Linked DNA regions of Homo sapiens: region 1 is linked to region 2. The links come from fine-mapping of genetic effects on gene expression. A gene starts in region 2. The other region holds a variant in brackets. All regions are shown on one strand. Distances are between the middles of the regions. Region 1 overlaps GPATCH8 (G-patch domain containing 8). Region 2 holds the start of GPATCH8 (G-patch domain containing 8).

The links. PIP is the estimated chance that this variant, and not a neighbour inherited with it, causes the effect. A credible set is the group of variants that fine-mapping cannot tell apart.
Region 1: its variant is the best candidate, but not a certain one, in a credible set for the expression of GPATCH8 in whole blood (INTERVAL, PIP 0.55).

What each region holds. Positions count from the first base shown.
Region 1 is chr17:44,432,636-44,438,012 of GRCh38, forward strand. It overlaps GPATCH8 (G-patch domain containing 8), which reads right to left. Exons shown (of 8, transcript NM_001002909.4): 4 at 3,843-3,910; 5 at 2,430-2,516. Among named protein-coding and RNA genes, the nearest start is that of ITGA2B, 46 kb to the left of the region's middle. The variant C/CT (reference allele first, on the strand shown) is at 2,776.
Region 2 is chr17:44,500,166-44,505,542 of GRCh38, forward strand. It overlaps GPATCH8 (G-patch domain containing 8), which reads right to left and starts at 3,241. Exons shown (of 8, transcript NM_001002909.4): 1 at 3,161-3,241. The coding sequence starts at 3,205. RefSeq lists an enhancer at 2,975-3,074 and a silencer at 3,175-3,524.

The DNA of each region.
Region 1 (5,377 bases), 68 kb before region 2:
TGAGTGTGTGGTGCTAGAGGGGAAAAGTACAAATTAAGGAGGAGCTAAGTTACTAAAGCTTCCAAAGTCATGTGAAGTTGAAGAAAAAATATAGGAGAATAAAGGAGTGACAGCAGGAAGGAAAAAAGACCATGGTCAGATAATAGGACATTTAAGATTTTAGAAACAGTGTAGTTCAGAGTTGACAGGGTTTCGGAGTAAATATTTTGATCAATAAGATGGGGAAAGTAATTCTTGCTCTTGCCCAGGCTGGAGTGCAGTGGTGTGATCATAGGTCACTGCTGTCTTCAACTCCTGGGCCCAAGTGATCCTCCCAATTCAGCTTCTCTAAGTAGCTGGGATTTATAGGCATGCACCACCAACACCTAGCTATTTTTTTTCTTTTTTCTTTTTGTAGAGACAGATTCTTGCTACATTGCCCAGACTGCTCTCAAACTCCTGGGCTCAAGCAATCCTCCCAAAGCACAGCCGTGATCCACCGCACCCAGCCGAGAAATAATTCTATTACCAGGGAGAGAGCATCTCAAGATACTATGTATAATCTTATGAGGCTGTGAATTACTGAGGTATTTCATTTATTTTTCACTCGACAGTGTAACTTTTACTTGAAAAATAAAAATGTATTCTTTATAATGTTTATATTTCAGACAGTACATAAAATGAATCTGGCTTTTCTCACTATTTCAAAATATTTATTCATTCAACTAATATTTATTGAGTACTTATGCACCACACACTGTGCTGGATGCAGGATATATACTGGCAGACAAATAGACATACTCTCTCTCCTCAATGCCCTTTCTGACTAGTACAGAAAGCAGAATATAAATTAGTGAATAAAAATTTATAATTACAAATTGTAAGAGAGGTTGTTGCAAGAGAATAAGGCAGAGTGGTTAATTATTTAAATGAGTTGATTAGGGAAGATCTATAATGAGGTAATATTTAAGCTAAAACCCAAAGGAGAAAATTTAACCAAGTGAAAGATGATGAAACATGGTGTCATGACCACTCTTGTGCCTAGAGAAAGAATGTAGCCAGAAAAAGAGGGCCCAGGTCTGAAGCTGAGGAACTCCAATATCTGAAGTTCAGGCAGAATAAACAGCAGCCAACAAAGGAATCTACATAGAAGCAGCAAGACAGATAAGAAGCAACTAATCTAGGAAAGTATAAATTCTTCAAAACCAAGAGTAATGAAAATGTTTTAAAGAAGAAAGAGTATGCCAGGCGCAGTGGCTCACGCCTGTAATCCCCACACTTTGGGAGGCCGAGGTGGGCAGATCACGTGAGGTAAGGAGTTCGAGACCAGCCTGGCCAACATGGTGAAACCCCATCTCTACCAAAAATTCAAAAAAATTAGCTGGCCGTGGTGGCTCATACCTGTAGTCCCAGCTACTCGGAGGCTAAGGCACGAGAATCACTTGAACCCGGGAGCAGTGAGCTTAGATCACACCACTGTACTCCAGCCTGGGCAACAGAGTGAGACTCAGTCTTTAAAAAAAATAATAATATTAATAATAATAATAAAATAAATAAATAAATAAATGATTTATTGGATTTAGCAAATAGAAGTGTTTGGTGGCCTTGAATAAAGTGGTTTGGTGAAAACTGCTAAAGTCAGTATAAATAGGCTGAAGAGTGAATAAAGAGAGAGGAAAGGAGAAGAAAAAGGGGAAAGAAAAAGGGGCAGGAAAAGAAGATGAGTTGGTTATATTATAGTTCTGGATAAAATAAAACACACAAAAATTTAATATATAGCTAAGCTAAGTTCAAAAACAAGAAAGGGGGTCAAGCGCGGTGACTTACGCCTGAAATCCCAGCAAACTGGGAAGCCGTGGCAGGCAGATCACCTGAGGCAAGGAGTTCAAGACCAGCCTGGCCAACATGGTGAAACCCCATCTCTACTAAAAACACAAAAATTAGGCTTGGCGTGGTGGCTCACGCCTGTAATCCCAGCACTTTGGGAGGCCGAGGCGGGTGGATCACAAGGTCAGGAGTTCGAGACCAGCCTGACCAACATGGTGAAACCCCGTCTCTACTGAGTGTTGGGGTTACAAGTGTGAGCCACTGTGTCTGGCCTCTGCAAGTGTTGGGGTTACAAGTGTGAGCCATTGTGTCTGGCCTCAAAGGACTTTTAACAATTTTTACTGCTACCACTACTTGAATACCTACTATGTAACAGGCATTGTGTTTTCAAACACTAATTCATGTAATCTTTCTAACACACTTTAGAAGTAGGTATTATTATCTCTATAGTTTATACAGAGCCAATAAATAGGAATGTAATAGAAATCTGAGATCTACTACTAATTACCACCAAATGTCAAACAAATGCTGTTAGCAACAGTGATGATTTTCAACAAAATTTGAGTTCTTTCTTATTCAGTGAGCACCTCCCCATCTCCCAATGAATAGCTTTGTTTAAATACCTTGTACTTTTGTCTCAGCTCTTCTGTGTCTTCTTTTTCTACTTCTAGGACACGGCGCCGTTCGGTAGCATCTTCAGCATAATCAAGCTTGACAAAAATAGATATGATTAGATTTAATTCCTAAAGTACCCCCAAGATTAGCTATGAAAAAGTTATTTGCACAACTACAGTATTATCTGAAAACAAAAAAAAATTGTAATTTTGCTTAGCTACTGCTTGCTTTATTGTCACCTCACAGAGAAAATCACATGCAAAATAGTTTGTTACTTTCAGGCTGGTAGTTTCCAAAAGGCACATTTGTTGAAAGTAGACTTCACTTCAATGTTAATTTTCTTTTCTTTCTTTC[C/CT]TTTTTTTTTTTTTTTTTTTGAGATGGAGTTTCACTCTTGTTGCTCAGGCTGGGGTTTAATGGCATGATCTCCGCTCACTGCAACCTCTGCCTCCCGAGTTCAAGTGATTCTCCTGCCTCAGCCTCCTGAGTAGCTGGGATTACAGGTGCCCGCCACAATGCCCTGCTAATTTTTTTTGTATTTTCAGTAGAGATGGAGTTTCATCATGTTGGCCAGGCTGATCTTGAACTCCTCACCTCAGGTGATCTGCTTGTCTCGGCCTCCCACAGTGCTGGGATTACAGGCGTGAGCCACTGCGCCCAGCGACTCCTAATTCTTTGAAAATTGAGGCTGGGCACAGTGGCTCACACCTGTAATCCCAGCACTGTGGGAGGCCGAGGCGGGCGGGTCACCTGAGGTCAAGAGTTCAAGACCAGCCTGACCAATATGATGAAACCCTGTTTCTACTAAAAACACAAAAATTACCCGGGCATGGTGTCATGCGCCTGTAATCCCAGCTACTTAGAAGGCTGAGACAGGAGACAGGAGAATCCCTTGAACCCGGGAGACGGAGGTTGCAGTGAGCCGAGACTGCGCCATTGCACTCTAGCCTGGGCAACAAGAGCGAAACTCCATCTCAAAAAAAAAAAAAAAAAAAAAAAAAGGAATTAGGAGTCAATGAAGAAAATATTTTAGGCAATGAAAAGCAGGTATTACAGGTGACAGCCGTACCCAATTCTACAAAGGCAAAGCTTTTATCACAGCAACATTTTAAGAGCTGAGCAACACTGCCTACTGAAGCAAGTACCAAGGTCTGGATCTAAGTCTGATATTGCCTTGCTGTATAACCCTCGGCAAATCACTTAACTTCTTTATGTGCCAGTTAAAACAGCAGCTCTGTTTATATTCTATTTGTCTCAAAAGTAGCACTAAATGAAAATGTAAAATATATTTTTTAGTCATCCAAAGAAAAATATTAAAACTACATTTCATCTGATAAATGTATTCTTGCACAGACATCTGAATTTGGAATTAGTATTATTTCAAAATATCTCACAAAACTTATGAGTTAATGAGATCAATTTACCTCCATTTCCATGCGACCCATGCCCATGACATCATACTTGACAACGATTGGAATGGGATCTGTTCTCCCTGTAACAGGAACACATAATCAAGGTAAGGTGCAAAGCCAAACCAACAGCTCATTTTACACATTGGGTTTTGGGTGGTTAGAGATCTTGCCTTGGAGTGCAGAGACCAGAAAGCTACAGTGAACCAAACACAAGCCATTCTCACAGCTTACACTCAAGACCTTCCTTTCCTAGTTTAAACCCAATTAACCACCTTGGCTGACGTCCAGTTGGGATTAATTTCAAATTACTATGGCAAAATTACATTAATAAGTAATGCAAAGCACTTTTAAGCAATGGCATCAGGAGGTTTAAATTGTAAAACTTTAAAAATTCCTTTTAAGATCCCCAAATAACTTCCCATCAAGTATCACTTTACTCTGCCCACTGATATCCTCCTACACAACTTTTTAACCTAGTTTAAAAAAAAAAATCTCAACTGGCATGGTTAAATAGAAAAAGTACATTTTTAAACATGATGCAGTAAAACTTTATAATTACAACTCAGTATGTTGAATTTGTTTTCAAAAGATGCTTTACAATTTTTTTTGATGTTCCTCATAGACTAGGAGATGCTTTACAATTTAATGGGGCTGTGAAAAGTTTAAATAAAAAGAAACAATTAGTTGCCCTTAGAGAAAAGAATAGTTTTCCTTTTAATCTGGTGCTCTAAAGTCCCATTTCCTAGAGTGGATTTAACACTGGCTGCGAGGGTAACTGGTAAGCTGTGAAAAGGACTAGTTGCGAAGAAAATTGACTTTAAACTAATTGATCTATGCTGGATAATTTTTTTAATAAATATATATTTAATCCACTCATAACCAGCCAAACAAAGCAAAATGGGGCAGACAAGCACTTTACTACCACAGCTGTTTTACATCACAACCTGCGCTTTTTATTGTGATGTAAGCCCACTGAAAAGAGGACTTACCTTATCCGTTGTACACCTTTAGTGAAAAAACACAATGTTTACTTCCCTCATCATTTCACTCAGGCTGGTGTAAACAATTGGTTTTTTTGGTTGTGTTGTTGTTGTTGTTATACACACACACATATATATATACATATATTATACCTTTGGGCTAAAAATGGAGTTTTCTTAGGCTAAATCTGAGGCATTACCCTCCCAACCCCAAAAAAAACTTTTTAAAAAATAAATGCCATGATCATGACTGGTTTTGGTCCTGCAAAATAAAGAAGAAACCATGTTCAAAACGACCACAACCACTTGTACTCGGTGGCTCTATATTTGTGGAATTAATTTTTGCCTTTAAGATGGAATGAAAAACAAATTCATAAGTTTAACTACTTATGTATCCTATTATTGTTTTTAAACAATAAATAGGGAGAATTAGAATTATCACAGTAAAAAAACAAAACAAAAAAACCAAACCCAAACTGTTAAAGAACATCTCATGTCAGAAAAAAAAAAAAAACAAAACAACAACTTCTAGAATACAGCCTTCTTTTAGATACAATCAAAGGACTG
Region 2 (5,377 bases):
TAATTGTCAGCAGCAGACAGAATGGTCATGAGGACAAGTACAAGAATCCAAAAGCCAGTATGAATTTAGGCTCTGCCATTTAACAGATGTATGTAATTGGCTAAGTTACTTAATTCTCTGTGCCTCAGCTGAAAACGGCAGTAATAACAGTACCTACCTCGTAGGGTTATAGTGAAGACTATGAGATAAGACACATAAAGCCTGTGGAATAGGACCTGTTTGTTATTATAATAAAGTTACCAATTAAAAAAAGTTAGGTCCCTGATAATTATTAATCTCTATATACATGAGTGCTTCAAGTGGCATACCACTGTTAACTATAACTTTTCACTATATATACAAAATACCTTCGCAACTTTAGGTATTCACAAATTTTAATAGCCCAACTCCCTCACTCCATAATAATTTCAAGAGACATCAAACTCTCCAAAATTTGCACTTGATAAACCGGTAAAGAGTGAAGTTCTACAACTTTAAATCATCCTGCTAAATTAAAGGCAAAGAAAATAAGTCATCTCGAACTTACCAGAGAAGATGAACAATTTCCAGTGCTACAAGATCTGTTGAAAGCAACAAGATCTATCCACTGTGTTTGGAAACCTACTATGACTTGTTTTCAAGTATAGTCAGTGGCTTCACCCAAAACCTTAAAAGGAGGCCACGTTTAATTTTGAATAACCTGAAGCTGAAAATGTTTCAGATACATTATTCACAGGAGAATCCTATTACATTACATTCTCTCACCAATAATTTTGAATCAAAATACATCATTAAATGAAAGTCAATCTGTATTTTCCCTTTATTAAAACATCTAGAAAAATACCACTTTATTTTTCAATGAATGTACTTTAGAAATGTTAACATAATTTATAAAAGTTTTAACATCTTACAACTGTCTAAAAAGGTTTCCATTCCCAATACCCTATTTACCCAAAATGCTAGGACATCTGAATTTTAAAAACCAACATTTTCGGCCAGGCGCGATGGCTCACACCTGTAATCCTAGCACTTTGGGAGGCCGAGGCAGGCGGATCACGAGTCAGGAGTTCGAGACCAGCCTGGCCAATACGGTGAAACCCCATCTCTACTAAAAATACAAAAATTAGCCGGGTATGGTGGCGGGTGCCTGTAATCCCAGCTGCTTGGGAGGCTGAGGCAGAAGAATTGCTTGAACCCGGGAGGCAGAGGTTGCAGTGAGCCGAGATCGTGCCACTGCACTCCAGCCTGGGCGACACAGCGAGACTCCATTTCAAAAAAAAAAAAAATTTTTCCTGGCTGACCCAATTTAACAGGGGTTGGTTCTTTCAACATATAAGCAGAAAATGAAGTATACGTATCATCTTCAAAGGACTACCATGAAACCAAAATCGGGTTTTGCAATACCCAACTAAAGCATCAGAAGACAGGGTCATCTTACTTGGAAACTGAGTATTGAAAAAGTACAGGCTAACCCCCTGAATGTTTTTCAGGAAACAGCATTCACACTCTGCTATCCACAATTTTCAAAATCTTCATTAAAGGCCCTGAAAATCCTGTTTGCTAAGCCTGCTGGAATTCTGTGGTTGACAGTCATCTTCCCTCAAAACTTAACTGTCCATATTATCTATTTTCGATTTTATTAGGTCACCTTGAGATTATTCTCTCCTCTGAAAAGCATTTGCGGGCTTTAGTTATCAGTATGTCTCTACCGGTAATTTAAAAATCAATAAAGCTCATACACCTTGCAGCCAACTCATATTTTATAGTGCTTGCTAATATATATATATGTGTGTATATATATATATTTCTCAGGGATCAAAAGGCTAACATGAACTGCTTCAAACTTTGGTGAATCTGCATTATATCCTTAGAACATCCTGAGACTCTCCTGTATTGTGCTGCAGCTATACAGCAGGCGCATGATCACAAGGCTTTTTAACAGCCCCCAGATCCCTTACTGCTGCAAAACTTCTCATAAGCGTTCTATGTACTAGACTGTTAACAGTGCTGAGTTAAAATTGTTAAACTGCTTTACCTATTTATTTACCAATCCTATCATCTCAGGGAATTCAAACTCTTTAAACTGCCTTCTGAAACACATCTAGAGTGCTTTCGTACTGCTTTGAGTAGGATCTGCAGCGGGATAAAAACTTGAGTTCTGAGATTCATCCCGACCCAAATTGCAGTTGCCAGGATATGCGGTAGTAATGCAGTGTTTTTTTTTTTTTTTTGAGACTCTACGGATGTATTTTACCTAGAAATAGCCAATCTCTACTAAATCCCTTTTAGTCTTCGAGATTTCCGCGGTAACAATTTCAACAGAAAGGTATTTTCAACAGCGAAAAAACAAGTTATTCTAATTTGGCCTTTATTTTTTACTCAATAGAGCTTGCCATCGTAAGGGCATTTTTCCATACTAACATTTGCAATTGAAGAAAGAAAAATCAAGCTTTTGGCACTAGTGACCCCATGCGTGGACGGCCTATTATCATCACGCTTCTCACAAATCTTTCGAGATAGGATTTGAGGTTAGGCTCACATCGGATCATAGTCCAGTAACTTACTGCTTTCCAAGCCCAATTAACAGCCTAATAACAGCAACACTTATGCCCCGCGAAATCTCAATGTATGACTAACCAATAAGGCGTCTGATAGCGAAGGCAACCTTTTCCCAGGTAAGGAAGAGGAAAAGCAGACAATGAAAGGAATTGATTTATCACAGTGAAGAAAGAAAAGAGAAGGACCCCAAAAGGATCCGTGAGAGCAAAATCCCGGGGTTCGGAAGCCTTGGCCTCAGCAATACTCTCCCCCAAGCCCTCTCAGCCCAACCCAACCACCCCTCTTGTCCCCTGGGAGCCAGCCCTTCGCCGGCACAGATCGGGCAGACCTGGAGGGCACAGCCCCTCACACGGCGCTCAGGCCCGGTTCCGAAATCCGATGCCAAACAGGCGGAAGCCGCAAGCCCCGCGGCCTGAGTTTCAGGGGTAAGAGAATGCGGGTGCGAGGAGATGCGGCCTCCCTCAAGCCGGGAGGCCTCTTGAGAAAGCAGAGACGGGAGAAGAGCGAGCTGGTTCGCAAGTCGGAGCAAAACTGGAAGGAAAGAGGGCTGGGAGCCGGAGATGAAGGAGGTTCTGGGCTAGACCAGCGCCTTCCCCGCATCCTCGGCGACGCCCGTGTTTACCTGAAAGTCTCGGTCTTCGTTGAAGCGGGAGAAGCGGTCCGCCATTTTGCCGCCTTCACTCCTCTCAGGACGACGCTCTCCGGTTCGCTCCTTCCCTCCTGCGACACCCACCCCTCCCCGGTTCCCCGCCTCCTCCCACGCCCACCGGGCGCGCGCAGCCGAGGGAGGGAGCGAGAATGCGCGTCCTGACGGGAGCCCCGCGGCGCAGGCGCCTGCCAGCCCTGGAGGCTGACCCTTCCCTCTAGCCCCTGCTCCGCGCGCGACCCGGAGCGACCCCGGTGGCCGCGCGTGCGCACTCCCGCCCGAGAGCCGCGAGAGCTTCCGGAGGGAAAGGTCAGAGGGGGCACCGTGCGGACAAATCTGGATGTTTTGCTGTTGCTCACTTCCGGGTGTCTTTTCTCACTGTTGCTTCCCCGTGTGCGCAGAAGTCCATCGTCTTCACTAAATAGCAGCATAATGTTGGGCCGAAAGCGCGACCTTAGAGCCAGACTGCTTAGCTTCGAATCTCAGCTCACCCTGAGGATTCAACGGTGAACGAGACAGGAATGATCTCCTCTTATGGGGATTTCATTCCAGTGGAAGAACTCACATAACTCGTAAAATAAATATTTTTAAATATCAACAAGTGCCACAAAAAAGTAAAACTGGCCACAGTGCTGAGAGGGACAGTCTCTGAAAGGACCTTTGACCGAGGCACAGCGAGGAGCCTACAGCATTGGGGCATAGGGAACGTTAGACCCAAAGGCCCAAAGACTGCAAGGAGCTTGACTTCGAGCCATCCTTTGAGAGAAGTATTTCACAAGGGACCGAAGTTGATCCAGATCGACTAAAGCTCTCTGGGCTTCAGTTTCCTTTTTATACAATAGGGAAATTGGATTCAGTAATCTCTGATGCTCCTGCCTAGCGCTGACTATGAGAGTCAAGAATCGGATTTTTCCATCCCTTCTGAGGACCTCACCCAGTGCTCCAGGACTCTTAGCCAAAATACATAAAACACATAGAAGGGTGGCAGGACTTCTCTCCTTTTGAAAAGAGTAGTTGACAGAAATCACACAATGGAAAAATGGGTCTTACCCTGCCCTGAAAGAGTCAAATGGAATGTAATTTTTTGAGGAAGGGTGTGTATTTTCTAGCTGTTACCCTTTGCCCCACCCATGCTTCAGCCTACGCTTCCATCTAAGGGGAGGCAGGGCACACAGAATTCAAACATTGTATTCTTTTTTTTTTTTTTTTTTTGAGACGGAGTCTCGCACTGTCGCCGGAGTACAGTGGCGCAATCTCGGCTCACTGCAACCTCCGCCTCCCAGGTTCAAGAGATTCTCCTGCCTCAGCCACCCTAGTAGCTGGGATTACAGGCGCCCACCACTAAGCCCAGCTCATTTGTTTTTTTTTTTTTTTGAAAAGGAGTCTCACTCTGTCGCCCAGGCTGGAGTGCAGTGGCGCGATCTCGGCTCACTGCAAGCTCCGCCTTCCGGGTTCACGCCATTCTCCTGCCTCAGCCTCCCGAGTAGCTGGGACTACAGGCGCCCGCCACCAAGCCCGGCTAATTTTTTGTATTTTTAGTAGAGACGGGGTTTCACCGTGTTAGCCAGGCTGGTCTCGATCTCCTGACCTCGTGATCCGCCTGCCTCGGCCTCCCAAAATGCTGGAATTACAGGCGTGAGCCACCTCGCCCGGACTTTTTTTTTTTTTTTTTTTTTTGTATTTTTAGTGGAGGCGGGGTTCACCATGTTGGCAAGGCTGGTCTGGAACTCCTGACCTTGTGATCCGCCCGCCTCAGCCTCCCAAAGTGCTGAGATTACAGGCGTGAGCCACCGAGCCTGGCTCAAACATTGTAAAGAGACTTAAGGGTAGCGTGAAAGATTGAATCACGAGGATACACATCACACTGACCTCTTCTTCCTCTCAAAAGCCCACTGAAATGACAGCAGAGGAATAAGAAGTGCATAAATTCACATGGACAAAGAGACCTGGAGAAGAGACAATGGCAGACAACAGATGTCAACATTTTGGAGGCCAGAGAGCACAGATAAATGGAAATGACTTTAGTAGAGTGGAGAAAAAGAAGTCATAGAGTAGGAGAAGACAGGAAAGAAGTTGATCAATGCTAAAGTGCACCAGAAAGGCTCAGGAAGTAGAAGCCCCTGGTGCCACTGATGATTCGATGTCTCTTTTCCCACCCAGGTAGCAAACTAGAGGTTTTCCCTCTGGAAAGGC